Homo sapiens: one gene and its partners. The protein of the gene in region 3 interacts with the protein of the main gene of each other region in a pairwise test. Each region holds a gene or a part of one and is shown on either strand. Other genes may lie near its edges.

Region 1 (8,276 bases), on a different chromosome or scaffold from region 3:
GCACTGGGCTGTGATTGCGCCACTGCACTCCAACCTGGGTGACAGAGCCAGACGCTGTCTCAAAAAAGTAAACAAATAAACAAACAAAGTTGTAGATGCCTATTAGATATCCAGTAGAGATATCAAGTAGGCAGCTGGATATGAGTCTGGAATTCGGGGAGAGGACTGGGCTACGGATATAAATTTTGGATCCTATGTTAGATTGACATCACCAAGGGCATCAGAGTATGTAAGAAAGAGAAAAGATCTAAGGACTGAGCACTGGGGAATTCCAACACTAAGAGGTTAGGGAGATGAGAAAAAAAAACAGCAAAAGAAATTAGAGAATGATCAGTGAGGTCAGAGGGAAATAAAGGACATTCTAGAAACCAAGTGAAGAGAATTTCAAGGTAGCAGTGATAAGCCAAAAAAGGTAAAAACCACTGAATCAAACAACATGGAAGTCACCTGGGACCATAATGAGCTGTTTTAGTACTAACTAACCATCATCTAAGAATTCATAACTCAGTACCTGTAAAGTTTTCTGCTCCTTTTGAAGATCTTTTATTTTATTCTGTTGGTGGCAAGCCCTACTTAGTGATTCATCCTCCAATTCACCAATTTTGGATTTCACACTTTCCATAATTTGTTCCAAGTCATTAGCTCGTTGTTCTTGATTGGCTGCTCGGCTTTGCTCTAGCTGAAGTTCATTTCTAAGTTAATAGACATACAATTTCTTCCCTTAGTATTAAAAATAAATCGAATTACCAAGCATATCCATATAAGAATGTATTGCCTTTCTAAAGTTTCTTTGCATTCTCTTTATCCAAAATGCTTGGAACCAGAAGTGATTCATATTTCAGATTTTTTCAGATTTTGGAATATTTGCATCATACTTACTAGTTAAGCATCTCAAATCTGAAAATCCAAAATCCAAAATGCTCCAATAAGCATTTCCTTTAAGCATCATGTTGGTGCTCAAAAAGTTTCAATTTTTGGAGCCTTTCAGATTTTCAGATTTGAGATGCTCATCCTGCAACAGAAACTAATAGAAGAAATATAGGGTACCATTAAACATCTATGCTAAGCTATTACCAAAAGATTTACCTATTAAAATTTTACCTACAAAAATATTTTTTAGTTTAATATTTAATCAAAATGGGAAATTAAATTTCAAGATTTTTTTCAAGGCAGTTATTTTTAGAACGCATACAAACAATTCAAAAGAAATCTTTTCCATTTTCTCACCTAAGCTGTTGATTAGTTTCTATAAGCTCCTGTATCATGTTCTGTTGACATGATGTTTCTTCCACCAACAATTTCAAATTCTGTCTCATCCTTTGTGATGACTGTTTGTCAAAAATGATGAGATCTACATTTAAAAAGTATATAATACAGATAGTAAAAATAAAAGGCAAAAAAAATTTTTTAAGGAAAAATAAACTTTTTACCTTAAGCATCAAGAATAGGATCTAATTACCTTTGAGATCTGTTCTTTTGACTAGAGACAAAGGTTTTAAGCCATGCATCATCAATAGCACATTTATGCTTTCCCATTCTGCTTCTTCCTGCTACAATTACAGAAAGAGAAGAAAGGGTTAACTTTAGATATAAAGTGAAGAAATTCTCTCATATATAATTTCCTGCATTTTCAGAATAGAACTTTTTCTTCAAAAGTTTTAAGTATAAATGTTTATGCATATATAATATCCAAAAAACACATTTATTGTTTCTAGCAAAATTAGTAATAGACTAGAAGTATGTAAATAAGCACAAATTGTTGCATTATACAGAATACTCATATGTAGGCCTCAATGGACAAAACCAACAACAACAACAAAAACACCTTGTAATTTCAGTGAATCAAATAAATCTAAGGTTTTAGATTTAACTAAGCCAAACCAAGCCCTGCTCAGAATAAACAGCTGTAAACTAGGCTATAATAACTGGATAGTAAAGAAAAGAAAAGGTGAGTCACTTCTAAGTATCACTTTCTTTTTTCTTTCTTTTTGAGACAGAGTCTTGCTCTGTCACCTAGGCTGGAGTGCAGCGGTACGATCTCGGCTCACTGCAAGCTCTGCCTCCCAGGTTCACACCATTCTCCTGCCTCAGCCTCCCGAGTAGCTGGGACTACAGGCGCCCGCCACCACGCCCGGCTAATTTTTTGTATTTTTAGTAGAGATGGGGTTTCACCGTGTTAGCCAGGTTGGTCTGGATCTCCTGACCTGGTGATCCACCCGCCCTGGCCTCCCAAAGTGCTGAGATTACAGGCGTGAGCCACCGCCCCAGCCCCTAAGTATCACTTTCATAATGACTAGGGTCACAAAAAAATCAAAACATACCTGACTAGTTGGAGCCAATATTTCAGACAGCTCCTTGTCAAATGGACAAGGTCTAACTATAAAAAGGAGCCCGTCCATCTGGATAACTGACTCTAACAGAATCACCCTGAAAGACACTCTCAAAGTCAAACAAGTCTTTCTTTTTGACTGTTGACTTCTTCCTCCTTTTTTTTACATCTCCTCCCACTCATAACTTTTCTCTCATTTATGCTTTAGTCTTTCTGATCACAGAGTTTAACTACGTGGTAGACACAACTAAAATTAACATTGATGTTGTTTTAGGAGCCAAAAGCTCTGAGTTAGTGTCTCAGAACTTCTACTGTAACTCATAAAAACAAAATGCTCTATACATAATAAAGTCACATATTTTGAATGATTAACTTATACATATTGTTTCCTGATACCTCTTACATTTTAAGATAAAGTAATTGTAAATTCTGAAAATAGTTGGGAATGGCATTTTCCAAAGTACATGCTACAGAACACTAGTCTAATGAAATGTTCATCAAACTAGTGTTAAGTATGTATGAAATGCTGTATACTAAATCCTCCCTTTGGAGACTAATATTGTGAAGTCTTAGAGTAATTAAACCATTTCATAGTCTTTAACCCAGCATTTCCTAAAATTATTTGAGAAAGAATCCTTTTAAAGTCAAATTTTCCTGTTTGTAGATGTAGCATTCTTTGGCACATATTTTGAGAAGCAGTGTCTTAAAATATTTTAAGTTTACCTGTTTTTCAGTCATGAGTCTGTCTGATGGTTGACTGGAATCCTGGGGTTTAGGGGCTACCGGAAACATAGTTACTTTTGTAGAATCAAAAGAAACAGAAATTGGCAATTAAAAAATTTGAGTTGCCTAAATGAAAAAAGACAAAAAGTGCAAAAGGAGTTAAAGAAAAGTATATTTAAAAGAATCCACTACTCTTGCAGGGCAATTCAGGTCATTCCTGCGTCAAAACTTTGTGACTTCTTAGATAGCTGATTGTAAGACTCATTTGAATAAACCCTATCTTATAATGTTCTCCTCTGGAAATAAAGCATTCTGGGATTTTACACATATACCACACACACACATACACTCTGTCCTGTCTAACCCCCCACCACAGAATGCATAACTGGTACCCAAGAACAGAGGAAAGAATGGAGTAGAAGGAGCATTTGAAGAGCTAATGGCTAAGAAAAATTTGAGAATCAATGAAAGACATAAATCCACACATTCTAGAAACCCAACATATTGCAACTGGGATACAGTAAAAAAAAAAAAGAAAAAAGAAAAAAAAAGTCAGTCATACCTAGACACTAATATCTTCAATGTGCTGAAAGAAAATAATTGCTTATCTAAAATTCCAAAGCCAGTGAAAACATTCATTAACGAATAATAAAGGCAAAAGTAATATATTTTCAAACACATGACACAAAATAAATCTGAGAGTGTTCATTGCATCTGCTCTGTAAAAAAATTCTAAAGAAGCTGCTTCATGCAGAAGACTCCCTGATGGAAAAGCAGAGATGTAGAAAAAAATAGAGCAAAAAAATGGGCGAGTTTAAACACAGACTACATAATGAGATCTTGTGAAGTATAAAATGTACAATTAAAATGCACAGTAACAGAAATATATTAGCTGAGAGTAGGGTAAATGGAGTAACAGTGTTCTAAGTTTGTTTACAATGGAGGTGGACACTGGTAAAGGTATCTGTTAACACTGGGCTTTTGTATAAGTTAAGGATGCTTGAGAATTTCTAGGACATCCACTGAAGAACTGAACAGAAGTATATAATTTTCTAACTAGTAAAGGGGAAAAACAAGACTATAATGATGCATTTTTAAAAATAAACCCAAGGGCATCCAAGATGGCCAAATATGAAAGGCTTCAGTCTGCAGCTCCCAGTGTGACTGATGCAGAAGACAGGTGATTTCTGCGTTTCCAACTGAGGTACCTGGTTCATCTCGTTGGGACTGGTTGGACAGTGGGTGCAGCCCACAAAGGGCGAGCCGAAGCAGGGTGGGGCATTGCCTCACCCAGGAAGTGCAAGAGTAGGGAGATTACCCATTCCTAGCCAAAGGAAGCCGTGACAGACTGTACCAGGAAAATCCAGACACTGCTACCCAAACACTGCGCTTTTCCAATGGTCTCAGCAAGTGGCACACCAGGAGATTATATCCCATGCCTGGCTCAGTGGGTCCCATGCCCATGGAGCCTTGCTCACTGCTAGCGCAGCAGTCCAAGATTGAACTGCAAGGTGGCAGCCTGGCTGAGGGAGGGGCATCTGCCATTGCTGAGGCTTGAGTAGGTAAACAAAGCGGCAGGAAAGCTTGAACTGGGTAGAGCCCACCGCAGCTCAAAGAGGCCTGCCTGCCTCTGTAGACTCCACCTCTGGGGGCAGGGCATAGCTGAACAAAAGGCAGCAGAAACTTCTGCAGACTTAAATGTCCCTGTCTGACAGCTCTGAAGACAGCAGTGGTTCTCCCAGCATGGTGTTTGAGCTCTGAGAACGGACAGACTGCCTACTCAAGTGGGTCCCTGACCTCCGTGTAGCCTAACTGGGAGACACCTCCCAGTAGGGCCCGACTGACACCTCATACAGCCAGGTGCCCCTCTGAGATGAAGATTTCAGAGGAAAGATCAGGCAGCAATATTTGCTGTTCTGCAGCCTCTGCTGGCGATACCCAGGCAAACAGGGTCTGGAGTGGACCTCCAGCAAACTCCCACAGACCTGCAGCTGAGGGACCTAACTGTTAGAAGGAAAACTAACAAACAGAAAGGAAAAGCATCAACATTAACAAAAAGGACATCCACACCAAAACCCTATCTGTAGGTCACCATCATCAAAGACCAAAGGAAGATAAAACTACAAAGATGGGGAGAAACCAGAGCAGAAAAGCTGAAAATTCCAAAAATCAAAGCGCCTCTTCTCCTCCAAAGGATCGCAGCTCCTCACTAGCAACAGAACAAAGCTGGATGGAGAATGACTTTGACGAGTTGACAGAAGTAGGCTTCAGAAGGTCGGTAATAACAAACTTCTCCAAGCTAAAGGAGGATGTTCAAACCCATCACAAGGAAGCTAAAAACCTTGAAAAAAGATTAGATGAATAGCTTACTAGAATAAACAGTGTAAAGAAGACCTTAAATGACCGGATGGAGCTGAAAACCATGGCACGAGAACTATGTGACACATGCACAAGCTTCAGTAGCTGATTTGATCAAGTGGCAGAAAGGGTATCAGTGATTGAAGATCAAATTAATGAAATGAAGCGAGAAGAGAAGTTTAGAGAAAAAAGTAAAAAGGAATGAACAAAGCCTCCAAGAAATATGGGACTATGTGAAAAGACCAAATCTATGTCTGTTTGGTGTACCCAAAAGTGATGGGGGGAATGGAACCAAGCTGGAAAACACTCCTCAGGATATTATCCAGGAGAACTTCCCCAACCTAGCAAGACAGGCCAACATTCAAATTCAGGAAATACAGAGAACACCACAAAGATACTCCTCGAGAAGAGCAACCCTAGGACACATAAGTGTCAGATTCACCAAGGTTGAAATGAAGGAAAAAATGTTAAGGGCAGCCAGAGAGAAAGCTCGGGTTACCCACAAAGGGAAGCCCATCAGACTAACAGCAGATCTCTTGGCCGAAACCCTACAAGCCAGAAGAGAGTGGGGGCCAATATTCAACATTCTTAAAGAAAAGAATTTTCAGTCCAGAATTTCATATCCAGCCAAACTAAGCTTCATAAATGAAGGAGAAATAAAATCCTTTACAGACAAGCAAATGCAAAGAGATTGTGTCACCACCAGGCCTGCCTTACAAGAGCTCCTGAAGGAAGCACTAAACATGGAAAGGAACAACCAGTACCAGCCACTGCAAAAACATGCCAAATTGTAAAGACCATCAATGCTAGGAAGAAATTGCATCAACTAATGGGCAAAATAACCAACTAACATCATAATGACAGGATCAGATTCACACATAACAATATTAACCTTAAATGTAAATGGGCTAAATGCCCCAATTAAAAGACACAGACTGGCAAATCGGATAAAGAGTCAAGACCCATCAGTGTGCTGTATTCAGGAGACCCATCTCATGTGCAGAGACACACATAGGCTCAAAATAAAGGGATGGAGGAAGATCTACCAAGCAAATGGAAAGCAAAAAAAAGCAGGGGTTGCAATCCTAGTCTCTGATAAAACAGACTTTAAACCAGCAAAGATCAAAAGAGATAAAGAAGACCATTACATAATGGTAAAGGGATCAATTCAACAAGAAGAGCTAACTATCCTAAATATACACGCACCCAATACAGGAGCACCCAGATTCATAAAGCAAGTCCTTAGAGACCTACAAAGAGACTTAGACTCCCACACAATAATAATAGGAGACTTTAACACCCTACTGTCAATATGAGACAGATCAACAAGACAGAAGGTTAACAAGGATATCCAGGACTTGAACTCAGCTCTGCACCAAGCAGACCTAATAGACATCTACAGAACTCTCCACCCCAAATCAATAGAATATACATTCTTCTCAGCACCACATCACACTTATTCAAAAATTGACCACTTAGTTGGAAGTAAAGCACTCCTCAGCAAATGTAAAACAACAGAAATCACAACAAACTGTCTCTCAGACCACAGTGCAGTCAAATTAGAACTCAGGATTAAGAAACTCACTCAAAACCGCACAACTACATGGAAACTGAACAACCTGCTCCTGAATGACTACTGTGTAAATAACAAAATGAAGGCAGAAATAAAGATGTTCTTTGAAACCAATGAGAACAAAGACACAACATACCAGAATCTTGGAACCAACCCAAATGTCCATCAATGATAGACTGGATTAAGAAAATGTGGCACATATACACCATGGAATACTATGCAGCCATTAAAAAGAATGAGTTCATGTCCTTTGTAGGGACATGGATAAAGCTGGAAACCATCATTCTGAGCAAACTATCGCAAGGATAGAAAACCAAACACTGCATGTTCTCACTCATAGGTGGGAACTGAACAATGAGAACACTTGGACACAGGAAGGGGAACATCACACACCAGGGCCTGTCGTGGGGTGGGGGGATGGGGGAGGGATAGCATTAGGAGAAGTACCTAATGTAAACGACGAGTTAATGGGTGCAGCACACCAACATGGCACATGTATACATATGTAACAAACCTGCACGCTGTCATGTACTCTAGAACTTAAAGTATAATAAATACATAAATAAATAAACCCAAGGGTCAGGCACAATGGCTCATGCCTCTAATCCCAGCACTTTGGGAGGCCAAGGCGGGCAGATCACGAAGTCAGGAGATCAAGACTAGCCTGGCCAACATGGCAAAACCCCATCTTTACTAAAAATATAAAAAATTAGCCGGGTGTGGTGGCTCATGCCTGTAATCCCAGCTACTTGAGAGGCTGAGACAGGAGAATCACTTGAACCCAGGAGATGGAAGTTGCAGTGAGACGAGATGGTGCCACTGCACTCCAGCCTGGGTGACAGAGAGAGACTCTGCCTCGGAAAAAATAAAAAAATTTTTAAAAACCCAAAAGAAGAGAAACACAAGCAGACAAGAGGTAAAACAAAGAGAAAAGCACATGGTACTTGACAATATGGTAGATTTAAATCCATATCAGTAATTACATTAATCATGAATGGCTCCAGTTAAAAGAGACTGTCAAACTAGATTTTTAAAAATCAAGCTATATGCTGTTGAAGGGAAAAAAGACTTCTAAAACACTAAAAAGCCACTTAAAATAAAAACATTAAAGCAGTTAAAAGTAAGAGAATAAAGAAACAATTCTGGGAAGACGGCATGGCCACAGCCTAGTTTTTTCATCTCTGCATCCCACATTAAAACAGAAGCAACTAGAGAGCAAAGCTAAAAACCCAAAAGCAATAGCAGGTCTTCCCTATACATGGGGATTGGTTTCAGAACCACCTGCAAGTACCA
Region 2 (8,818 bases), on a different chromosome or scaffold from region 3:
ATGTTGGTCAGGCTAGTCTCGAACTCCCGACCTCAGGTGATCCGCCCGCCTTGGCCTCCCAAAGTGCTGGGATTACAGGTGTGAGCTGCTGTGCCCAGCTGGCTTTTTCTATTTTTATAAATGCTCGTGGCAGTGGGCAGAGGGAACACAGCGAGAATCTAGGACCTCACTTGTCCCACGGCTGCTTTCCACCAGGACAGAGCATCAAAGCCAAACAGGATCTCTACAGTCAAGCTTCTGGAAAGTGGAATCAGGGCCTGCCCTTTGGGCAGGAGGAAACAGACAGGAGGGAAGACCAGGTGGCTGGCTGAGAAAACCATTTCTGGGCCACTCACAGGCAACCAGGGAGCAGCTGGGTGGAAGAGAATTTGTGGGTTGGGAGATGCAACAGGCCTTTGACACCCAATATGGCTGGCCTTTGGCCCGTGCTCCGTCCCACCATCCAGCTCTCCATGCCTGGCCCCTGGGGCACAGGGCGGGCAGGGCCCACGGGAATGCCCCACAGAACCCGTGTCTGATGCTTCCTTCAGCCCCTCCCTCCCTATTTTCCAGCCTTCTCATGTCGCTCCATGACTTGGTACAAGCATCGCTTCCCCCTGGAATGCCTTCTTCCCTCCCTCTCCTGGGGAGCCTCCAGCTCAAAAGGGCCTTGGCATAAACCTTTCTAAGTCTCTGCTGTCCCCGTTGCTGGGCCTACAGCTGCAGAACCCCTCACTCTGACGCCATTGTGAGTTTGGTCCTATTTCTGTCTTCTCTAATGTAACGTGGAGTCCTCTGAGGGCAGAGATTATGTCCTCAGGCTCAGCACAGTACCTGGCCCACAGTAAGCAGACATCCAGCTTTTGGCAGGAAGCTCCAGTTTATTCTGTCTCATTTCTGCTTTCCCTCCTGGTTCCTGGCCTTTGGCTACCATTGGAGCTGCCAGGCCAGGCCAACAGCTGCAGACCAGCAGGGCCAGAGAAGCAGAGGCCTGCCGGGCCCATCCCTCCCGGCAGCCCAGAGCACGGCCACCCAGCGCAGCTGGAGTCTCAGATCCTTCTCTCTCTCAAGAAGCTGCACATCTCTGCGCATCTCCCACCTCTATGCCCTGGCTCCTTTCCCATTTCTGGGCCAGGAACAGTGCCAAAGCCTTCATTAGGGGTGCAGGAATTAAGTGAGACAGCAACAATATTGGCATCGGCCTCCCTGAAAACCATCTTCTCAAGAACTCAGTTTCTGATCTTTCTTTCTAAGCCTGGCTCTTCCAGGAAGCCCTCCCCACTGCCCATAATACTGTGCCACCAGCCGGGCGTGGTGGCTCACGCCTGTAATCCCAGCACTTCGGGAGGCCAAGGCGGGTGGATCATCTGAGGTCAGGAGTTTGAGAGCAGCCTGGCCAACATGGTGAAACCCTGTCTCTACTAAAAATACAAAAATTAGCCAGGTGTGGTCCCAGCTACTCAGGAGGCTGAGGCAGGAGAATCACTTGAACCCGGGAGATGGAGGTTGCAGTGAGCTGAGATCGCACCATTACACTCCAACCTGGGTGACAGAGGGAGACTCTGTCTGAAAATAAATAAATAAATAAATAAAAAGAAAAAAGAAAAAAATACTGTGCCACCTACACTTAGTTACAAGCCTGCCTCCTTCACCTGCCAGGGTATACCTTCAGGGTCAGGGCTGTGACTATTCCTAGCTCCCAGGATGGTGTCTGGTACTTAAGGGGAGCCTAATAGGTGTTCATGGAAAAATTTACTGCCCAGGATGGGAGAGGGGGTTGTCACAATGTGTGGATGTGTGTGTGTGTGTGTGTGTGTGTGTGTGTGTGTGTTTGAGAGGAGCTGTATCTCATTTCAGCCAAGGAGGCTGAGGCCAGAGTCCAGGGCACAGACCATGGCAGGGCCTAGTCCAGCATCCCCAGTCCCACCCTGGTCCCCCTGAGGCTATGATTAACCCTTGTCCTCAGCACAAGGACAGAGCCTCATCTGCCAGCCAGTCTTGGCCATGTGGGGAAGTAGGTCAGGGGCTTCAGAATCCGGATAGCTGCTGCACATCAGGGCAAAGCCAGCCCTCTGGAGCCTTGTGGATGGAGACCAGGGTGTGGGCACACCACAGCAGGCCACAATGGCACAAACTGCAGCAGACTTATGTCCACACCCCCCAGCTTGCTGGAGGCCATGGGAAGGTCACTTCTCCCTGGACATGTTTCCTCGCCCCTTCCAGCTCTCACCATCCAAGAAGGAGGCATCTTAGGGGAGGAGAGGATAGAACTGACTCCACTCCAGCAGGCCTCCTCTTCCTTTCTGTCCCAACAGCCCCACCCCCCACTCCCAGTGATGTCATTTCGGCCACCTCATCACCAGCTTCTAACCCCCTTCCAGTCGCCCTTTCTGTCCTCAGATGGCAACTGGGGGCAGCGGAGATGTATCCCTCTTTATTCGGTCTCTCGCCTGGCACACTGGCCGGGATTCCCGAACCTGACCCCCTCCAAACCATGAGCCATTTGCAAGGGGACCGGGCAGGGGAGGGCTAAGCGACTCCTGACTCTCGAAGGCAGATGGGAGACTTGACTTTCTGCTTCTTCACCAGCAAAGACGCGGTACCACTTCTCCCTGAGTAGGAAGCGAGTTAGGGAAACTTTCTAGGAGTCTTAGAGCTCATAATTCCTGTCAGGGACGGGTGCTGCTGGATTTGGCGTGAGATAACTTCCCTCTACACACAAGCCACCCTCCCAGCAAAACATGACGAAGGAGCCGCCTCCCGGCCTCAGAAGACTCCTAGCTAGCGCTCAGGCCCCGTAACAATACCAGGGGCGGCCGAGCAGTTGCTGCCTCCAGGACGGGGTGGGCGAGCTGGATGACGGATGCCCGGTCGTCTGGGAAAATAGGAAGACCGCCCCCCGCCCCCCACTTTTGCAGGTCTCCGCCCGTCCGGTCCGCGTCTTCTCCGGCAGCGCCCCCTCTCTCCACGTCCCGGTTCTCCAGACGCGTCCCTCCTCCGAGTCGGGCGCGCCCGGTCCAGCCCAGCCCCTCCCGGGGTGATAGCGCCCAACAATGGAGAAGCGGACAGGGGTCACCGGGCGCTCCCCGCCTTCCTGTCCCGGTCGCCCCCGCGCTCACCCTGCTCCAGGTCCTGCTGGTCGTACCAGGACTCCTCTTCCTCCGCGGAGAAGTCCTCCATCCCGGCGGCTCTCCGCATGGCCCCGCGGGCGGCGGGCGGGTGCTGCGGCGGCGCAGCTCAGGGCCGGTGCGCGCGGCCCGGGACAATGCGGCTGAGGCGGGCCGGGCCTCCAGCGTCGGGAACTCGGGCTACAGAGCCCGCGCCGCGCCCCCTCGCCATCAACCGCTCGCCGGGAGCCCACGCGGGGCCTGGCGCTTTGCCAGGGTCCGGCCCGGCCGGGGTCCCGCAGAGCCGGGGGCACCGGGCTGCGGCGACACAAAGGGTGGAGTGGCAGGGACGGCGGGTGGGACAGTGGCAAGGAGGATCCGGGCCCGCAGGCGGGTCTGGGGCGCTAGGAGCGCGCGGGTGCCGTGGCGGGCGCCCCCTGCCCGGCTCGGGTCCGCGCTGCTCCTGGCCCGCCCGGCGACAACCGGAGCCGCCGCTGCATCTTGGCGGAGCCCGCCTGCAGCTTGCGGAGCTCGGCTCCGCGGGGTGGGGCCTGCCGCCGCCGACCAATCAGGAGATGTATGCAAAGCTGGAGGCGGGGCCGAGGGCGGGACCCTCCTGGTGTCTTGGTCTGGGAATTGCTTGATCAACCCTTTCGTCCTACTTCCCCCTACGACCTATTCAGTTTATGTCTCATGTCTAAAATTATGCTATTTTAGAAGTTGTCGTCTCTCCTAGATCTCCTGGAAGCAAGAATATTGTTTCTCTTTCACAGCTGGCTACTCACTTCCTAGAACAGGCTGCTCACCAGTCGGGCGCGATGCCTGACTCCTGTAATTCCAGCACCTTGGGAGGCCAAGGCGGGCAGATCGCCTGAGGTCAGGGGTTTCGAGACCAGCCTGGCCAACATGGCGAAACCCCGTCTCCATTAAAAATACAAAAATTAGCTGGGCATGGTGGCGCATGCCTACTCGGGAGGCTGAGGCAGGAGAATCGCTTGAACCCTGGAGGCAGAGGTTGCAGTGAGCCAAGATAGCGCCACTGCACTCCAGCCTGGGCGACAGAGGGAGACTCTGCCTCAAAAAACAAACAAACAAAAAACAAACAACATGCTGGTCATTGATACCTTCCATCGACATTCTTTGAATGAATGAATACTAATTTACAGTTGCCTTTGGGAACTGCGTGTTTAAGTGCTTGTGGCTAGAAACCACAGGCTGAAAGTGGCAAAGTTTGAGGGTGTGTTACCTGCATTCAAGGTTCTGTTTTCCTTTCCTTGGGACCCATATCCTATATCCAATTATACCCATTAAAACTATACACACTTGCATCTGTCCAAGCATTCTTTCCTTAGAAGAGTGTTCGGACTCAAGCATTCACGTAACTCATTTTTATTGGGACCCTAATGTGCTGGTGCCGTTGAGAATCTCTGAATAATGTTGTGATATACCCAACGAATGACTTGTATCCAGAATACAGAAAGAACATCTGCATAGTCATAAGAAAAAGGCACGCAACCCAGTAGAAAAGTGGGTAAAAGATTTGACCAGGTAATTCACAAAAAAGGATACACAAATAACTGAATAAATATGCAACAAGGTACTGAACTTCTTTAGCCATCAGAAAAATGCAAATGAAAACCACAATGAGGTATCACTACCCAATCACCAGAGTGGCTTTAGGGAAAAAAAAAAAAAAAAAAAAGGCCAGGCGTGGTGGTTCATGCCTATAATCCCAGAACTCTGGGGAGGCCGAGGTTGGGAGGATCACTTGAGCCTGGAGTTCAAGAGCAGCCTGGGCAACATAGCAAGATCCTATTTCTATAAAAAAATTTAAAAATAAAAATTAGGTGGGCATAATGACACACGGCTGTAGTCCCAGATACTTTGGGAGGCTGAGGTGGGAGAATTGCTTGAGTCTAGGAGGTTGAGGCTGTAGGGAGCTGTGGTCATGCCACTGCACTCCAGCCTGGGTGACAGAGCAAGATCCTGTCTCAAAAAAAAAAAAAAAAAAAAAAAAAAAAAGACAAAAAATACCTAGTATTGGCAAGAATGTTGAGCAACTGGAACTCTCTCACCCTGCTGGAGGGAATACATAGGACGACAACCACTTTAGAAAACTGCCCGGGCGTGGTGGCTCATGCCTGTAATTCCCAACGCTTTGGAAGGCCAAGGAGGGTGGATCGCTTGAGGTCAGGAGTTCAAGACCAGCCTGGGAAACATGGTGAAACCCTGTCTCTACTAAAAATACAAAATTAGCTGGGCATGGTGGCACATGCCTGTAGTCCTAGCTACTTGGGAGGCTGAGGCAGGAGAATTGCTTGAACCTGGGAGGCGGAAGTTGCAGTGAGCTGAGATTGCGCCACTGCACCCAGCCTGGGCGATAGAGCAAGACTGCGTCTTGGAAAAAAAAAAAAAAAAGACTGCTTGATAACCATGAAAGCTGAATAACGTAAGCTGTTGTAGGTTGTGTTCCCAGGCAGCTGATCCTGAGATGGAGATTAGCATGCAGGAAGTTGATTAGGGATATCAATCATATTGGATTAGAGGGAGAAAAAAGAAAGAAAGTTGACTAGGGAGTGCTCTCATGATCAACACCTGCAGGAAAGGGAGGGAAGCAGGGTTGGTGGGGGAGAAGCTGGGTTGGTATGTAGCCTCTGCAAAAGCCTCCTCTGATCCCTGAAGAACTTTGAATCCAGGGTGACCCTTCAAAGCTATTCCAGGTATCATTGGGGGAGGGGGCCTTTATATCCCCCACCCTTACATATCAACCAGTCATTGAATGACACAGGTCGTTCCTAGGAGGCATGTGTGACCTTGGCCAAATAAGTTCTTTTCAGCTGAGACTAGTTTGCACAGAGCCCTGGCAGCTGGGACTGCCAGCCAGGGGTCCTCCCAGCAGCTAAGGGAATAGGTCCTTTCGTTCTGAAAGAGTTGGGGATACATCACAGCAGCCACTATACATGCATACCCTATAACCCAGAAATTCTATTCCTATATATGTGCAAGAGAAATATGCACATACCTTATCCCAAAGACATGTACAAGAAAGTTCATAGCCACAGTATTCATAAGCGCCCACACTGGAAACAACACAAATGTCCATCAACAGTTGACGAAGAATATGTGGCATGTTCATGTAATGGAATGTTATATAGTACAAATACAATGATCTACTGTCATGGGCTTGGGCTAAAAAAAAAAAGTTGAGTGAAAGATGCCAGACACAAAGAGTAAATACCTGTATTTGTCTCTTATTGCTTCTGTAACAAATGACCCCAAATTTAATGGGCTTGAAACAACACAAATTTATTATTTTATAATTCTGTAGAAGTCTGACAAGGATCACTGGCTAAAGTCAAAGCATTGGTAGAAGCTGTGTTCCTTCTGGAGGTTCCAGGGGAGTATCTGTTTCCTTGTCTTTTGCACCTTCTAGAGGCCACCCCATAGTCCTTGGCTCATGGCCTCTTTGTCAATCTTCAAAGTCAGCAACAGAAGGTGGAGTCTTTTTCACATCCCATCACTCTTACCTTTTCCACCTCCCTCTTATAAAGGACTCTTCTGCTTAAACTGGGCACACTGAATAATACAGCATAATCTCCCTGTCTCAATGTCTTTAACTAAATCACATCTGCAAAGTCCCTTATGTTGGGCAAGGTAACATATTCAGAGATTCTGGGGGTTAGGATGTGGATATCTTTAGTGGTTATGATTCTATCACAGCACTGCATGATTCCATTTTATATAAAGTTCATGGCCAGGTGCAGTGGCTCACGCCTGTAATCCCAGCACTTTGGGAGGCCGAGGCAGGCAGATCACGAGGTCAGGAGATCGAGACCATTCTGGCTAACACGGTGAAACCCCGACTCTACTAAAAAAATAAAAAATAAATTAGCTGGGCGTGGTGGCAGGCACCTGTAGTCCCAGCTACTCAGGAGGCTGAGGCAGGCGAATGGCGTGAACTGGGTAGGTGGAGCTTGCAGTGAGCCGAGATTGCGCCACTGCACTCCAGTCTGGGTGACAGAGCGAGACTCTGTCTCAAAAAATAAAAATAAAAATAAAGTTCATGTGTCTGGAATCCCAGCTACTCGGAAGGGTGAGGCAAGAGGATCACTAGAGGCCATGAGTTTGAGACGAGCCTGGGCATCACAGCCACCCTCTGTCTCTATAAAATATAAATAATAATAAAGTTAAAAACTGGCAAAATGAATCAAGATAGTGTTTGGCTTTGGGAAGGCATGTGGAGAATTCTAAGTGGCTGGGAATCTTTTTCTAAAATTTTTTAAACTTATTTTTGAGATGGGATCCCAGGCTGGGGTGTAGTGTCATAATCATAGTTCACTGTAACCTCAAAGTCCTGGGCTCAAGTGATCCTCCTGCTTTAGCCTCCTAAATGGCTGGGACTGCAGGCTTGTGCCACCACACCCAGCTGATCTTTTTTCTTTTTTTTTTTTTACGATTGTGGTGAAACACACATAAGATTTACCATTTACCATTTTTGAGTGTACAGTTTAGTGGTATTCAATACATTTATAACGTACAACTATCACCACCATCCATCTCCGTAGCTATTTTCATCTTGTAAAACTGAAACTCTGTACCATTAAACACTAACTCCCATTCAGGAGAATTCTATCTCCTGAGCTGGGTGCTGGTTACACAGGTGTGTTCACTTTGTGAAAATTCACCCAACTGTACACTTAAGATGTGTGCACTATTCTGAAGATATATTATACTTTGATAAAATAGTTTATTTACTAAAGAAGAAGCCAGGCACAGTGGGTCACGCCTGTAATCCTAGCACTTTGGGAGGCCGAGGCGGGCGGATCACTTGAGCTCAGGAGTTCTAGATCAGCCTTGCCAACACGGCGAAACCCCATCTCTACCAAAAATACAAAAATTAGACAGACATGGTGGTGCACGCCTGTAATCCCACCTACTCAGGAGGCTGAGGCAGGAGAATCATTTGAACCCGGGAGGCAGAGGTTGCAGTGAGCTGAGATGGCCCCACTGCACTCCAGCCTGGGCAACAGAGTGAGACTCTGTCTCTAAAATAAAATAAAATAGCATAACATAACATAACATAACATAACATAACATAACATAACATAACATAACATAACATAAAATAAATAGAAGAAAAACACCCTATGACTGGCCTAAACTCTTCCGTGAGGAGGAAAATCAGGTCTGCCTTCAAGGAGGAAATTCTTCAGCCTCCATGAGCTACAGGTCAACAAGCCCCGGATCCATTTCCAGCCTTTTCCTGTGATGTAGTCAAGCAGGGTAGAGAGCCGACCCAGGGGTGGCAAGTACAGACCACCTGACCTGACCTTGGTAACCCAGGACCTGGCACCTCACCTGAGTGTCAGGAAACCTATTTCGTGGTGTTCCTTGCCGCGGGCATCAAAACACGGCGCTGATGGCAAAGATTCCCCGGTGGGCTCGATGTCCACCAAGCCTTGGGCACTGTGAAGCCCTGGAGTCTTGTGACCCCGGCGGCCGAGAGCACTTCCCTGCGTGCAGCCCAGGCTCCCAGAGCTCCCTAGCACCTCCAGCCCAGGTTCTGGATGGGGGAACGGGGCACAGGCAGGGGACCCCGGGAGCGCCCGGCCACCGCGCGAAGATGGCCAGGCCCTCCCAGCGAGCGCCGCTTAGGCGCGGGGCGGGGCTGAGGACGCCGATGCGACAGCCGATGGCACCGTCGCTGCTGCTCACCCCCAGCCTGCATCCCC
Region 3 (9,102 bases):
ATGTGTCTTCTAACACCTGGAACAGAAACGAAGAATTTCCCACACTGTTCACATTTATATTGCTTCTCTCCATATGGTTTGTATCCTGAGTGAGCTAGGATATGCCTATTAAGGAGGGAATGACGTACAAAGACTTTTCCACAAATACTGCATTCACATGGTTTTAATCCAGTAGAAATGTTCTCGTTCAGATCAAGATTTGGAATTTGGCTGACAACTTCTCCATACTGACCATCTTCTTTACTTTCACACAGTCTCTGTACGATATGATTTCTGTAAAAAAATGACAAGCACATTATTATTGGTTGGTTTATTAATAACTTTCTACTTATTAATAGGTCTTGGACTTACACTGCTACCAATATCAGGGAAAATGCATTTTTTTTTTTGCCATGACTGAATTATTTCAAAGTAAATGGGTTACTACTGAAAACACAGCTACCACCTGCATGGCTATGACCAAAATAGTAATATTCATATACACAGTTTTGTAGTACTATTTTCAAGTAAACTCTTTTGCAAACACTGACTGCTACATTGAAGTACGTTACATTTTGGGTGAAATTTTTCTAAAAATAAATAAATTTCAAGTGACTCTTATTTGTTTTGATTGCTTGTTTTTAAGTTCATGACATGCTAAGATTCCTTCAGAGGACTTTATTTCCTCTGCTCAGTGCAAATTACCTTATATCTTTCCCAGGTTTTTCGAAGTGATCTTCAATATTCTGGTCTTTCCATTGGCTTCCTAAAATGCAGACCCATAAAATTATCATGAATTATTACAAACTGTAGACACATTACTAGATTTAATGTTCACTGTACACAGTGCCCATGCCTGATTTATTCACCAAATCATTCCCTTGCCACATTCCAAATCATAAATAGCACTGATGATAGGGAAAGACTTCTGTAATTAACTGAAATGTGTTGTCATTCTTACCTACAGAAGCCAGGTTCCTGCAGGTTTCCTGCATCACTTCTCTGTAGAGATTCTTCTGAGAAGAATCTAGCAAAGCCCATTCCTCCTGGGTAAAGTTCACAGCCACATCCTCAAAAGCCACCGAGTCCTAGAACATTCCACACATGTGGATAGAAGGATGGGTGAGACTGACAGCACTGGGAATCTATACTCAATTCATAAGCTGTTTACATGATTTGATAATTTCCAAGCATTTATTCTATGACTTGATTGTCACAACTCTTACTCTGTTCACACATACTCCCTCCCACACAGCAGTACTAATGCTAGAATTGAACTATTCAAAAAGGCAACAGCAAAGTGGAAATACCCATCTCATTAGAGAATCCAGGGAGTAAGATGTGCTGCTAGGTTACCTCTTAATTTCACTTCGTACATTTCTAGTATCTGCCATAATAAAGTCCTACCTGATGTGCATAAGTGAGTTAATAATATCAGTCCTAAGACTACTTATTCTTAAAAATGCCTGCTCACAAAGTTCAATCTTTGTTTGTATTAGTAACTTACATTTTGAAAGGGATTCCACCAACCTAAGTAATAAGAATGACTCACTGCATCTAAATGGTTTATGCAATATAGTTGCCAAAACTTTTTCTGCTAAAGGTCTATTATTTTGTGTCACTGCAGTGGTGCTTAGGGAACCAGACACCAAAACACAGTCTGAACACTAAGTGTTTAATGAGTTTCCCTGGTAGACAATATTTTATATGTGCTGTCACTTGTTAATTGGGGAGTTGAGCCCATTCCATGTGATTACACCAAGAGAGAATAGGCTTATTAAATTTAATTGAGTAGTAAATAAAACCAATAATTGATATTTAACAATTTACTAATACAATTTTTAAATTTCTATTGCACAATGTCAAGGCAGAATGGAATAAGAGGAAATATGGCACATGTTTTTTAAAATGACATTAATGTCACCACTTCCAGATGCTATTCCTGTGAAATCACATAAATTCCCAAATCAGGCTTTTTTAGGCAAGAAAAACTAGTTTTTCATACCTAGTAAAAATGACAAATGTCTAATGATTTTCAGTCATCTAAAAAAAGAGTTATGTCTTGCCTAACATACTTTTAAGATTTTCAACCAAAAATATTCAGGACAGCACAGTATTAGCAGAGAGATGAGCAAGCAGACCAAGGGCTGAGGACACAACACCCTGTAAAGTTTTCACAGGGGGACATCAACCTAAAGACATTTTGGTAATATGCACACTTAGGAAAGATGAAGAGAGGCACAAAGATTTTTTTACAGTAGAGTGTCAGATGGTTTATTCTCCGCTTTCCTCTCATGTAAAATGTTTGTAAACAGAAAAATATTTTGGCCGAGCGCGGTGGCTCACGCCTGTAATCTCAGCGCTTTAGGAGGCCGAGACGGGCGGATCACTTAAGGTCAGGAGTTCGAGACCAACCTAGCCAACATGGCGAAACCCTGTCTCTACCAAAAATACAAAAATTAGCTGGGCGTGGTGGCGGGCGCCTGTAATCCCAACTACTCGGGAGGCTGAGGCAGGAGAATCGCTTGAACCCGGGAGTCAGAGGTTGCAATGAGTGAGACTGCATCATTGCACTCCAGCCTGGCGACAGGGCGAGATTCCGTCTCCAAAAAAAAAAAAAAAAAAAAAAAAAAAGAATATGGTTTGCTTCCTCATTAACCTTATCAAAGCCTCTCATTTACGCCCCTTCTGTGGACCCCAAACCACAAACCATGACTGCGGTACCTGGTTTATGAATCGCCGTTTGCTCAAACACACGGTTTAACGTTTTAACAAAGCCTCGGCTTAATTTTAGGGGAAGAAAGGTGGGACTGGAAGCCCCATGAACCACAGCTCCTCCCATGCTGGAACCCCGCACACCGAGACACCGAGTCGGGGCTCTCCCGCATCACCCTCCCGTGGTCACCACACTACCTGGATAGGGGAGGCGAGGGGTTCCCGACAGGGCTCCGGCCGGCGGAAGTGGCGCCCGCAGGTACAGACAGGATGCAGGGGTTCCGCTGCCCGCCCCGCCCGGCCCGGCCCTGAACAGAAGAGGACTGAGCCCCGGCTACGCCACGGCGACTCGGTCCGCAGGTTCCGGAGCCGATGGCGTGGAGGCCCGAGTCGCGCCACAGCAGGTTTCAACCAGCCCTCTTCTCCACTTCGGGAAGCCAGGCGCAGTCCACTCACCATTCCTCGGCTTCCCGGGTGTCCTGGCGTCAGCTAGGGATGTCCCAATACTCGCAGGTCACAGGGTGGCAGAGGCTGCTGCAGAGCCACCTGGGCCTCCCAGAGCCAAGAACTAGCAGCGGAGACTAACAGGAAGAGCCGGCTCCGGCGAAGGAGAGACAAAGCAACCGCCAGGCAGATCCCGGAAGCCGCCCTCTCCTTTCCGGCGGCGCGCCTGATTGAACGGTCCCCACCCCAGCGCCCCTGATTGGATGGGGCTTCAGGCCCCGCCCCTCAGGCCCTGAGTGACAGGAGATTGCGATCTCACGTGAGGCTGGATGAGGTCAGAATGACCGCTTTTGGCCTAGCGGTTTGTAGGCGGTGCGTCCTTCCTGCGCTGGGATCCGACCATGCAAGAAGGACATTCACATTTAACCTGTATACAAGTTATAGCTATTTGTGCCTTTTATATATATATATATATATAAAATTGGAAGCAATATAATGACAGTTCTGTAACTGCCCAGGGAGTTCACCTTGCCCGCTACCTAGACAGAGCCGATTTCTCAAGACAGGGGAATAGCAATAGAGAAAGAGTAATTCACGCAGTGTCCTCTGTGCGGGAGACCGGAGTTTTTTTATTTTATTTTATTTTTTTGAAACAGAATCTTGCTCTGTCTCCCAGGCTGGAGTGCAGGCTTGGAGTTTTATGATTATTCAAATCAGTCTCCCTGAGCATTTGGGGTAAGAGTATTTAGAACGTTTATTTTGCCAAGGTTGGGGATGCATATGCATGACACAGCCTCAGGATGTCCTTGATGACATGTGCCCAAGGTGGTCAGAGCACAGCTTGGTTTTGTTGGAGAGAAATGCTCGGTGCCGCAAAGTGAAACCAGCACTCAAGCGAAAGTTTTCTCAGCAACGCAATTTACTTCTGCAGAAGCGTGCTGCTCGCATCAATCACGATCGCAAGAGCACACTGAACAGAGGAAAGCAGGGGTTTTTATTCCTAACGCAGTCCCTACCTCTGGCATGGGCTGGGGTCAGACCGCACGATCTAAACTGACCCGGTTGGCTATTTGTGAATATTTTCCCAAATAAGGAAGGGGGAAGGGGGATGTGAGTTACAATGGTGGGACTTGCGGTTTCCAAGGGAGAAATGGGTGCAGAGCAGGTAACCAAGGGAACAGATGTGAGTTATTGATTAGAACTGACGGAAGGTTGTTTACAGTAACTAAGGGCAAGGAGGCATGGAGAACAAGAAAGTTGAGTTCGAAAACAAAAAAACAAGAAAGTTAACATGCCAAACCTTGGAAGAGAAACTGACTGTATCTGACAGCTTTATACATTTTAGGGAAACAGGAGACATCAATCAACATATGTAAGATGAACACTGGTTTGATCCGGGACAACCTGAAGCAAAAGCGGGTCAACTCGAAGCCAGGAGGGGGCTTCCAGGTCACAGGTAGGTGAGAGACAAACGGTTGCATTCTTTTGAGTTTCTGATTAGCCTTTCCAAAGGAGGCAATAAGATATGCATTCATCTCAGTGAGCAGGGGATGACTCTGAATAGAATGGGAGGCAGGTTTGCCCTAAGCAGTTCCCAGATTGACTTTCCCCTTTAGCTTAGTGATCTGGGGGGCTCAAAACATTTTCCTTTCCAATTTCCCCCTTTTCTTTTAAAAATATTTTGGAGAAAGCATTTTAGAAGAAAATCAGTCTCTGGTCCCAGGTTTTGTCCAATCTCTCATGGAGTAGCTGGGATTACAGGCACTGGACACCACGCCTGCCTAATTTTTTTTTTTTTTTTTTCGTAGAAATGGGGTCTCCCTCAGTTGCCCAGGCTGGTCTCTGGTGCCCAACGCCGGGCTCCCGGTAATCTCTACAAATAATCCAGTGAAGGAATGCCAGAGAGTGGAAAGTGGAGGATGACTGACAAAGGACGCCCGAGTACGTTTTCACTTCAAGCTCTACAGGTAAGTAGGGCGCTCGGAAAATTCCAGGGTAACCTCCGGAAACTATGGGTCAGGCTGAGAGTAAGTTTGCTAATTACTGAAGCCTTGTCCGGCAGTTACTGCGCCGCGGAGGGGTAATTGTGAGTACCCAAAATCTCCCATCTTTGTTCTATCTGGTAAAAAAGTATTCTCTTTGGTTCCCGGAATATGGAACCATGAATGTAAAAGACTGGGACAAGGTCGGATCAGACTTAAAACGAGCACAACAAGAGGGCCACGATATTCCCTTCTTGCTTGGTCTGCGTGGCCTGCAATTAAAACAGCACTGGAGCCCTTCCACACTGAGGAGGAGCTTCAGGATGACATAGAAAACTTTAATAATCAGGAGTCTAATGATCAGCAAAATCAACCATCACAGTCTAGTTTTAAAAAGGCCGAGAAACGGGAAGGTATATATGCTAATCTCCAAAAACTTATAAAAGAAACAGTGCCACCTACTTCGCCTTTAGGGGAAGGTCTGGAATGGCCACCCCCGGCTCAGCCTTACAAATTTTTGGAACTGGAGCCTGAGACGCGGCTTGCCGCTCCCATTGTTGCAGGCCCCACCAATAACTATGGCGAAGGGAAGCTTCAGGCTCGCCTAACAGCCAATTACGATCAGGGAATGATCCTCTACCACCTGTTAATTGTGGTAGAGGAATGCTGCGAGCCGGTCCAAATACAAATTATGGCACGGGGACAATCCCGTCATCCATTCGCCAGGCATGAGAAATGGGGGATTTGGATGCTTTGCAGTTTCTGGTAATTAATTCGCCAGTTGAGGAGCCCAGAGAACATGCTCAAGCATGCTGGCAGCCACTTCCTTTTAAAATATTAAAATACTTAAAGCAAGCAATTGGACAATATGGGCCAAATTCTCCTTATGTTCATTCCTTGTTACAATCTGTGGCTTATAACAGGCGTTTAATACCTATGGATTGGGAGGCACTAGCCCAATCCACTCCGTCCCCCTCTGAATTTCTCCAATTTAAAACCTGGTGGACAGATGAAGCAACAAATCGGGCATGCAGAAATGCTCAAGTCCAACGTCCCGTTAATATCACATCTGATCAATTGCTTGGAATCACATGGGGTACTCTAAATCAACAGAATGGTAATGGGTGATGAGGTTGTTGATCAGGTCAGAACTATATGCCTAAGAGCCTGGGAAAAAATTCACAACCCTGGTACAACTTATCCGTGTTTTAACTCAGTTCGACAGGGTCCAAGGGAGCCTTATCCAGATTTTATTGCCCGTTTGTAAGATGCGGCTCAAAAGGCTATTTCAGATTTTCATGCCAGGAAAGTGATCGTTCAGCTGCTTGCTGATGAAAATGCTAATACAGAATGTCAGGCAGCAATTAGACCTATTAAAGGAAAGGCAGATCTAAATGAGGAAAAAGCTTTAAGTGAATACATTAAAGCCTGTGATGGCATTGGGGAGCACTTATATAAGGCCAGCTTCCTTGCTCAGGCAATGGCTGGACTAAGGGTAACAAAAAACACATGAGTGTTCCCCAGGTCTTGCTATAATTGTGGACAGATAGGACATACAAAAAGAGAGTGTACAAAGAGGCAAAAAAGGCAAAACTCAGGACCGGGCCCCAATTCAAAACGGGGCATTCCCAATTCAGGACGGGACATCCCTGACTCCAAATGGAGTGTTCCCAAATGGATTGAGGCAGGTTTCAACCAGCCCTCTTCCCCACTTTGGGAAGCCAGCCGCAGTCCAGGAAGGTCCCAAAAGGAGTTTATGGCCCACTGCCAAATGGCACGGTGGGACTTATACTGGGAAGGTCCAACTTAAAGGGAATTCAAGTACATACAGGAGTAGTGGACTCTGATTGCTACGGAGAAATTCAAATTGTTATCTCCTCCACTGTTCCCTGGAGTGCTAATCCACGTGACAGAATAGCTCAACTGTTGCTTTTGCCGTATGTTAAGTTAGGAGAAAGCTCAGAAAAAAGAATAGGAGGATTTGGAAGCACAAATTCAGCAGGCAAGGCTGCCTATTGGGTAAATCAAGTCTCTGACAATAGACCTATTTGTATGGTCACCATTCAAGGAAAACAATTTGAGGGTCTGGTCAACATAGGAGCAGATGTGTCGATCATAGCTCTTTACCAATGGCCAAAAAACTGGCCCAAACAAAAGGCCCCAGTGGGTCTTGTTGAGGTTGAGGATTTGCTTGTATTTCACCAGGAGAGAATCAGCTTCCTGTCTGGGTACCCACAAGACATCTTAAGCTGTGCCATGAGACAGAGTCCAAGAAGAGGAAAAGACCTCAGAATGTCTCTGCGCCCCCAGTTCGTCAGACGGCTCAGATGAACATCTCTGTTGAGCAGATGGAAACCAGTAAAACTCCCCAAGCAACTCCACCGACCTGGGGGCAGATGAAGAGACTGGCTCACATTGCAGAAGAGAACCTGAGGTCTCAGAACAAGCCGCTGACCACCAGTAATCTAATGGTAGCTATGATGGCGGTAATCTCCTTGGTGGTGAGTCTTCCTGTAGCAGAGGCAGATCAAAATTACACCTATTTTTGTAATAGGAGGAAGGAGGAGGAGGAGGAATGTTAATGAATGTTTCTATTGGTTATCGCTTTCCTGCCATCTGCCTGGGGCCAGCAGCAGGATTTTTAAATTATGATACACAAAGTTGGATGGTTTATGTTCCTGCACATAACGGATCAAAAGCCTTTATTCATGCAATCAGTGGAAGAACATTTCAATCTTTGGACACTATTAAATACCTTGAGCATGGCTATGTTGTGACACATCGCCAGATTAATAAATTTAAACCTAATAAGAACCTCCTGTTATTAAACGGTCAGAAAAGCTAGAGGTGCTAACCTGGGAAGATTATATTGCAAACAGTGCTGCTGTACTACAAAATAATTCCTATGGAATCATCATTGATTGGGCCCCTAGGGGACAATTTGCAGTAAATTGTACTGGACAGAGTGAAGATTGTAGAGAGACTATTTTGCAAACGACTACCCAGATAATGCACCAAAATTACATAGAAGAATTGAAACAAATTACCCTATTAAGTGGGAGGAGAACGGTATGGCTCCTCCAAGCCCAAAAATTATTGATCCAATTATAAGCCCAGAACATCCAGAATTGTGGAAATTAATGATGGCTCAAAGCCCAATTCGGATTTGGAAAGCAGAATGTAAAACAGAGACCCATAGTAAAAAACTTCGATTTGTTGTAGCCATGACCTCTAATCAGATGGTCCCATTGCAGAGTTGTGTTAAACCTCCTTTTATGTTGGCAGTGGGAAAAATTAATATCTTACCTGACTCTCAAACCATATCATGCCTCAACTGTCGTCTTTTTACCTGCATTATTTCTGCCTTTAATAAAGATAATAGCATTTTACTGGTTAGGGCCCGAGAAGGAGTTTGGATACCTGTTTTCCTCAATAGACCTTGGGAGGCCTGTCCCTCCATACATATTATCACTGAAGTACTAAAAGGAATACTTAATAGATCAAAGAGATTCCTATTTACTTTAATAGCTGTGGTCCTGGGCCTTGCTGGTGTTGCTTTGCACTCTTCTATTCAAACTGCGGACTTTGTGGGTAGTTGGCAGAAAAATTATTCTAAGCTTTGGAATTCCCAAAGCCAAATAGATCAAAAATTGGCAAATCAAATTAATGATCTCCGTCAAACAGTAATTTGGATGGGAGATCGGATTATGAGCTTGGAGCATAGAATTCAAATGCAATGTGATTGGAATACTTCTGAGTTTTGTATTACTCCTAGCTCTTACAATGCCACTGAACACGATTGGGAGATGATTAGACGTCACCTACAAGGAAAAGAAGATAATTTAACATTAGATATTGCTAAACCGAAAAGACAGCTTTTTGAGGCATCTCAGGCTCATCTCAGCCTGTTGCCTGGAGCTGATATTCTTACTGGAGCCGCTGATGGCCTTTCTAACACTAATCCTTTAAAGTGGATTAAAAC
Region 4 (5,579 bases), on a different chromosome or scaffold from region 3:
GTTTTGCTTAACTTTATCGTCACTTAACCCTAATTTTAGGCCTGGAGATACTAACTATAATGGCCTAGAGATAGGGCAAGTCTTGAAGAGAGCATGTTTCCCGAGGAAAGAAGCCTCTGCATTGTCATCCAGCCTGAGAATGAAGTGGGGAGTGCTTGCCCTTAACATGGAGGGGTGGGCTATGACTGCAAACTCAGAAATGCAGGAGTCTGGGGAGTAAAAATCTCCAGCACCATCGATTCAGATGTCTCCATCTAATTTGTCAGGGTCACAGGTTTTCCCAAGCAGTTTGCCGATGCTGGCATAATAGACTTGCCTTGGCTGGCAACTGTCTTTAAATTTTATCCTTTGAAACTATTAAGTCTCGGGCTTGCTCCTCAGTTTTTTCAAGCCGTCCTACTGCAAAAGGTGAAAAGCTTTTTCACATGCCACCAGAGGCCCTCTAACTTTGACACCTGGCTTTCCATTGCCTGTTATTGTCCTTGGCTGTTAAGTATGCTTCTATAGAACAAAAATGGCTTAACAATGGCCATTCAACCCTGTTATCCTCATAGCTACAATTTTCTCCATACATCTAAAATGTGAGGCAATCAGATATTGTCTCTCCTTGTACAACTACCCAATCCCTATTAAATGCCAGTGTTAAGTTGTAACAACTGGGACTTGTGACAGGACTGTCCTCCACCTATCAATGATGGGGTCTGGGCTGCTTATCTTTAAGTGTATACCACACAGTCTCTATTACCTATTTCCATATGTGTGAAAACTGAAGCAGTTTGTAAAAAAATTAGAATGCTTTCCAAAACAAACTGAAAATACAGAACAAAAAATTAAATATAATGTCAAAAGTATTTAAGTGAAATAATAGATTTATTCAAAGAGAAATAAAATGTCCTGGGTAAAGCTTCTGTAATAATACTATTTCTGATACTGTATCTCTGAAAAATGGCTAACTAGTCACCTTATCAATACATTTAAGGCATCAATAATAGGTACCACTGAGGACATACATTGTGAAGAAAGAGAAGAATAAGTCAAATACTAAAACATACTTATCATGACAACTCAAGGTGACATGAATATTTAATGAAAATTTAGAATATAACAACATATGACTCTCATTCTGTGGACATAAAAGGAAAAATACAGTAATTCATTTTACTCATTACATTTTACAAAATCAGCCCAATGAAGCAGTATTTTTTAATAAAAACAGTAATTTAATTTCAAACAAATATATTACCATCCTATTCCTTTATCTTGTATATATGTATCTAATTGGCAAAACATACTTTACTGAAATCAGTAACAATCCAATCCATGATACTTCAATTGCTTCGATCAATAAACATCTTAAATTTGAAACTCATTTTTCTTATGCCATAAGCCTGATTATCAGTTCTATAAAAACGCTACACCCTATTGCTTGGCCCATTAAGTGTAACTAGTCTTCTGCACAAGGCTAAGTGGCTAAGGTACTTTTGAACAACCACACACAATTCATCAAGCACACACACTCACTCCTGCTCCTCTCACACACGGCCACCAGAGCAGCTCCCCTAGTTCTCTTGTTCCTCATAGTGAGCATAGCCACTAGCATAGGTCCTTCCTAAATTCAAATTAGTAAACAAATCTGATGACTCAGTATCTGAATCCTTTCTGCCTTCATCTTCTTCCTCTTCATCATCCTCTGCTTCATACTCATCCTCCTCCTCATCGTGGTAGCTGGTATCACCATACTTATCAGATGAAAGGTTCTTCCAATAAGCATCATACCCAGAAGCTCCATCTCCCTCTTCACCTCCAGTCTGCCTGCCAAATTTCAGGGAGCGTGCTATAGAAGACAGACAAGTACAAGGCATTTTGTTAGTTCCAGTTCTCTACATTCTCATCTTCCTCTATAAAATTTCATGGATTTCATTGGCTGCTTCAATCCCAAATGAAAAAATAGGTCACATTTTCCTAATTTTTTCACCTGAGTCTATATACAACACCATAAAAAATAAAAATTACAGTGTAATTTCATTAAATCTAGAAAACAAATTAGACCAACAGACCACTCCAAAGGTATTAAGGCATGTTTAAAACAAAAATACCTTCCGTTTGGCCACTGACAGTTTATTTTCAAATCACATAAATCACAGAATACAGCTGATTTCGTATCAGTACATTTTTCTTAAGACAGCTATTTTACAATGCAGATGCCCTTAAAAACAAAGCCTGTCATTTCTTCTGCCTTAATAGTGACACAAAGTTCAGTGCAGAAGATCAGCAAAATCATCAGTCTCACCTCACCATGCAACTACATCTGTGATTAAACAAAGCAGTCAGTCACTTAGAATTATGGTTCCATTCTGATATGTTTGGTTAAGAGTCAAACTTCTCTTTAACAAAATTGCGAGCTGCATTACTATAAGCATGCTTATTCCTTCACAAAAAAAGTTACATAAAAACCATAAAATAATTTCCTATAGTAGTGCTATATTACATAAATAAACATAGGTGCTCAAATATCACACACCTAAGATAGCTTCAGAGTGAATTTGACTTCTAGGTACTTAAAATTACCACCACTTTAATATTAAGGAATTATAGCTACTCAACTATTTAACAAGGAAGACTCAACAAAAATAAAAAAAAATCACTCTTTATCTTAAATTTCAGTATTTGCTGTCATTAACTAAGGCAAATACCAAATATCAAAATGAATATTGGTCTATTTAAGTAAAACTGAAAAACTTTACCCACATATTTTCCTAAGCTGTAAAATTCCACTTGCTTAAAAGAACACATTCATCTTTTCAAATAAGAAGAGGCAATAAGAAAAATAGACCAAAAAAAAAAAAGATAAACTTTGTCTAAGTATGAAAGCAAAAATCACTTCCTTAGTATCTTAAGGGCCTTACTTGACATGCTAAGGTCCTTAGTCTCCTGAGTTTCATGCCCACATTTAGGACAAGGAGGCTGTTTTCCTTTTTCTTGCTTAAACACTTTGCTCCTTGTATGATCATCACAGAAACAAGCCTGTATAGGAGAAGCAAAATAAAGTAAATAAATAAAAATGTAAAAATATACAAAAAGACAGTATTCAGTGTTTTAAAGATATAGCTTTATTAAGGCAGTGAGATTAACAATTTTGTTGGGAGCAGTCACACTTCTCATTTCATTTTCTTAACAGAAATGGTTTTTGTCAGGACCCTTCTGAACAATGATCTAACAAAAGGCAGACTATATTGAGTATGACATGTAAGTACATTTAGCTGTTCACAAATATTTCAGTACTCATAAGGTCCCTGATGAAATGAAATAATGGTGAACAGCCTATTTACTCTCACACAGTGTATGGTCTAACTAGGGATGGAGACAGTGAAAAGGCAATTACAAGACACTAAGCACTGAACGGGAAGTGCAGAGGGAAGGGCACTAAAGCAGACATGGGATTTGGGAAAGGCATCTTAGAGACACGAAGTCTTAATAGCCATATGAAGAATGGGAGGGCAATAGGGTAAGCCAAGATGGAAAAGTATTCCAGACAAAGAAAACACAGATAATGCCTGAACACCATTTGGTAAAACTAGAACAGAGTTGGAAGATAAATAAGACATAGGGTTAGGAATATAAGAACTAGAGAAACGCTTCTGAGAGGAAGGGCATTGGCTGCATCTGTTTAGTAATCTTTGACGAACGAATGCTAGAGACTAGGCCTAAGGACACAGAAAAATTTGGAAATCTTTACCCAAACTCTTCTAAGCAGGTATATTTTGACATTAATTAAAATAGACTCTCATCATCTTGGTCAGAATGTTCTCCACTAAAAACACAGAGCCAGGATTCCAGAGAAATGTGCACTAGCCACAGCTCTACTAAAAGGTGACTGGATGACCATTGGAAAGTCATGTAAGCTTTCTCAACTTCAATTCCACAGTCTCAAAAATAAAAGAATTAGACTACATAATTTTAAGGTCCCTTATAAATTAATTATAGCTGCATATAAGCCAAGGACTGGTGGAGGGGTATAGAGATTAAAAACAAAATCTAAAAAGAAAAAAACGCATTGGTATACCTTACAACGGAGACATGAGTGCTGACCAAGCCGATTGCATGAAACACCTGTGGGAAATAGATTAATTTTAAAATCCCGTTATTTGGTTCTTAGAATTTTCTTTTGTCTTTTATCAAATCACTAAAAGCTTGCAATGGAATATAGCCTTATAGACAGCTGCCTGTCTTTTGGGTTCAAATGCTATAAAACACACAAAGCTCCCATGCTGCAAATAAAATAATTAAATTTATTATTATACATTCTGCAAAAGGCGACGAAAGGCTCAAAAATGCTATATACTTCGAGATGCTCTTTTAATCTGAGAATTTTATATATAAATATTGCAAGAATTATATACACATGCATACACATTGTGTGTCTATGTGTGTGTAGTATGTATGTTGTATGTATATCACAGAGATGACTTATCTACTTTAAATTTATAAATAAGTATAATAATTAGGATTTCATACCAGAACAAGAACCAAATTAAAGGAAGAGAATACCTGGGGAATTTCGGTCTTTTTCCTATAATAGTAACTACTATTTAAAAAGGGCTTTTTAAATGCCAAGTACCACATGCTATTGTTTTATATGGTGTCTCATTTCAATGAACCTTCCAAGAAAAAAACTATGTGTAAAGATGATACTATTACCCAGTCAGCAATGCTGGCTCTCAACTGGAAAATACGTGAGAATTTTGTGTATAGGTTAAATACAGGTGCCTGGCACCCACCACGGACTTAAAAGATAGAATCTCCAGGGATGAGGCCTGGACATCTACATTATTTTTAAAACCTCCACAGGTATTTTTGATATACAGTCCTGTCTAAGAATCACTAGAACCAACTAGCAGAAACAAACAGGGTGGTATCTCTTACGGGAGGGCATTTGGAAATGGGAAGGAAGGGTGAGGTTTGGTTTTTTATAATAATTTGAAGGTAAAAATGACATGTGGTACTCTGAACCACGAAAGGTGTAAGTCCTGCAATGCCTGATCAAATCAAGCCTACAAAATGAAAAACTGGCCCAACCAATATGCCACTGGCATCCCTGCTGAAAAATTTACAACTATATTCTGACTGTTCTGTTTTCTAGAAACAGAAAATAAAGACTGAGTTAAATTACAGTTCATGAGAAGCAGTATAAAAAAACTTGATTCCTTTTTCATTAAGATTAATAATTATACTATTCAGAATCTTGGGTATAAAGAACATCTAATACTTAAAAACTTACATTTAAATGTTTCTGCCTCTAAAACCTGGCAGCTGGCTTGATGCTCAAATTGATCATCTTCACAGAGAAAGTTATGGCAAAAAGAACAACTGAATATTCTGCCTCCTATTGGATTAAAAAAACACAAATGTAATTAAGATAAACTTTAATTTAAAAAAACTCATATCTATAATACTGCTTAGAAGAGATGGTAAGTTACTTTGGAGATACACCAAAATTGTTCAGCCATTTTTATTCTGATAAAAGCTAAAATGAAAACTGTTGAAGTCCTTGAAACTGAACTGAAACTGAGAAAAGGGGG

Evidence for each region.
Region 1: the proteins of ZNF669 (region 3) and CEP70 interact in binary tests that used the Homo sapiens proteins (3 or more experiments, as listed by UniProt).
Region 2: the proteins of ZNF669 (region 3) and CDR2L interact in binary tests that used the Homo sapiens proteins (3 or more experiments, as listed by UniProt).
Region 4: the proteins of ZNF669 (region 3) and ZNF330 interact in binary tests that used the Homo sapiens proteins (3 or more experiments, as listed by UniProt).

What each region holds. Positions count from the first base shown.
Region 1 is NC_000003.12:138,569,807-138,578,082, forward strand, and holds part of CEP70 (centrosomal protein of 70 kDa), read right to left. Parts: intron 3,179-8,276; exon of another isoform or gene 3,127-3,178; 5' UTR 3,122-3,126; coding exon 3,053-3,121; intron 1,551-3,052; coding exon 1,460-1,550; intron 1,352-1,459; coding exon 1,228-1,351; intron 721-1,227; exon of another isoform or gene 693-720; coding exon 512-692; intron 1-511.
Region 2 is NC_000017.11:74,982,403-74,991,220, reverse strand, and holds the start of CDR2L (cerebellar degeneration-related protein 2-like), read right to left. Parts: upstream 3,590-8,818; 5' UTR 3,178-3,589; coding exon 3,099-3,177; intron 1-3,098.
Region 3 is NC_000001.11:247,101,047-247,110,148, forward strand, and holds the start of ZNF669 (zinc finger protein 669), read right to left. Parts: upstream 3,311-9,102; 5' UTR 3,154-3,310; coding exon 3,151-3,153; coding exon of another isoform or gene 2,893-3,150; intron 1,068-2,892; coding exon 941-1,067; intron 746-940; coding exon 685-745; intron 274-684; coding exon 1-273. UniProt on the Homo sapiens protein: May be involved in transcriptional regulation.
Region 4 is NC_000004.12:141,229,970-141,235,548, reverse strand, and holds the end of ZNF330 (zinc finger protein 330), read right to left. Parts: intron 5,384-5,579; coding exon 5,279-5,383; intron 4,111-5,278; coding exon 4,064-4,110; intron 3,025-4,063; coding exon 2,907-3,024; intron 1,835-2,906; coding exon 1,560-1,834; 3' UTR 852-1,559; downstream 1-851.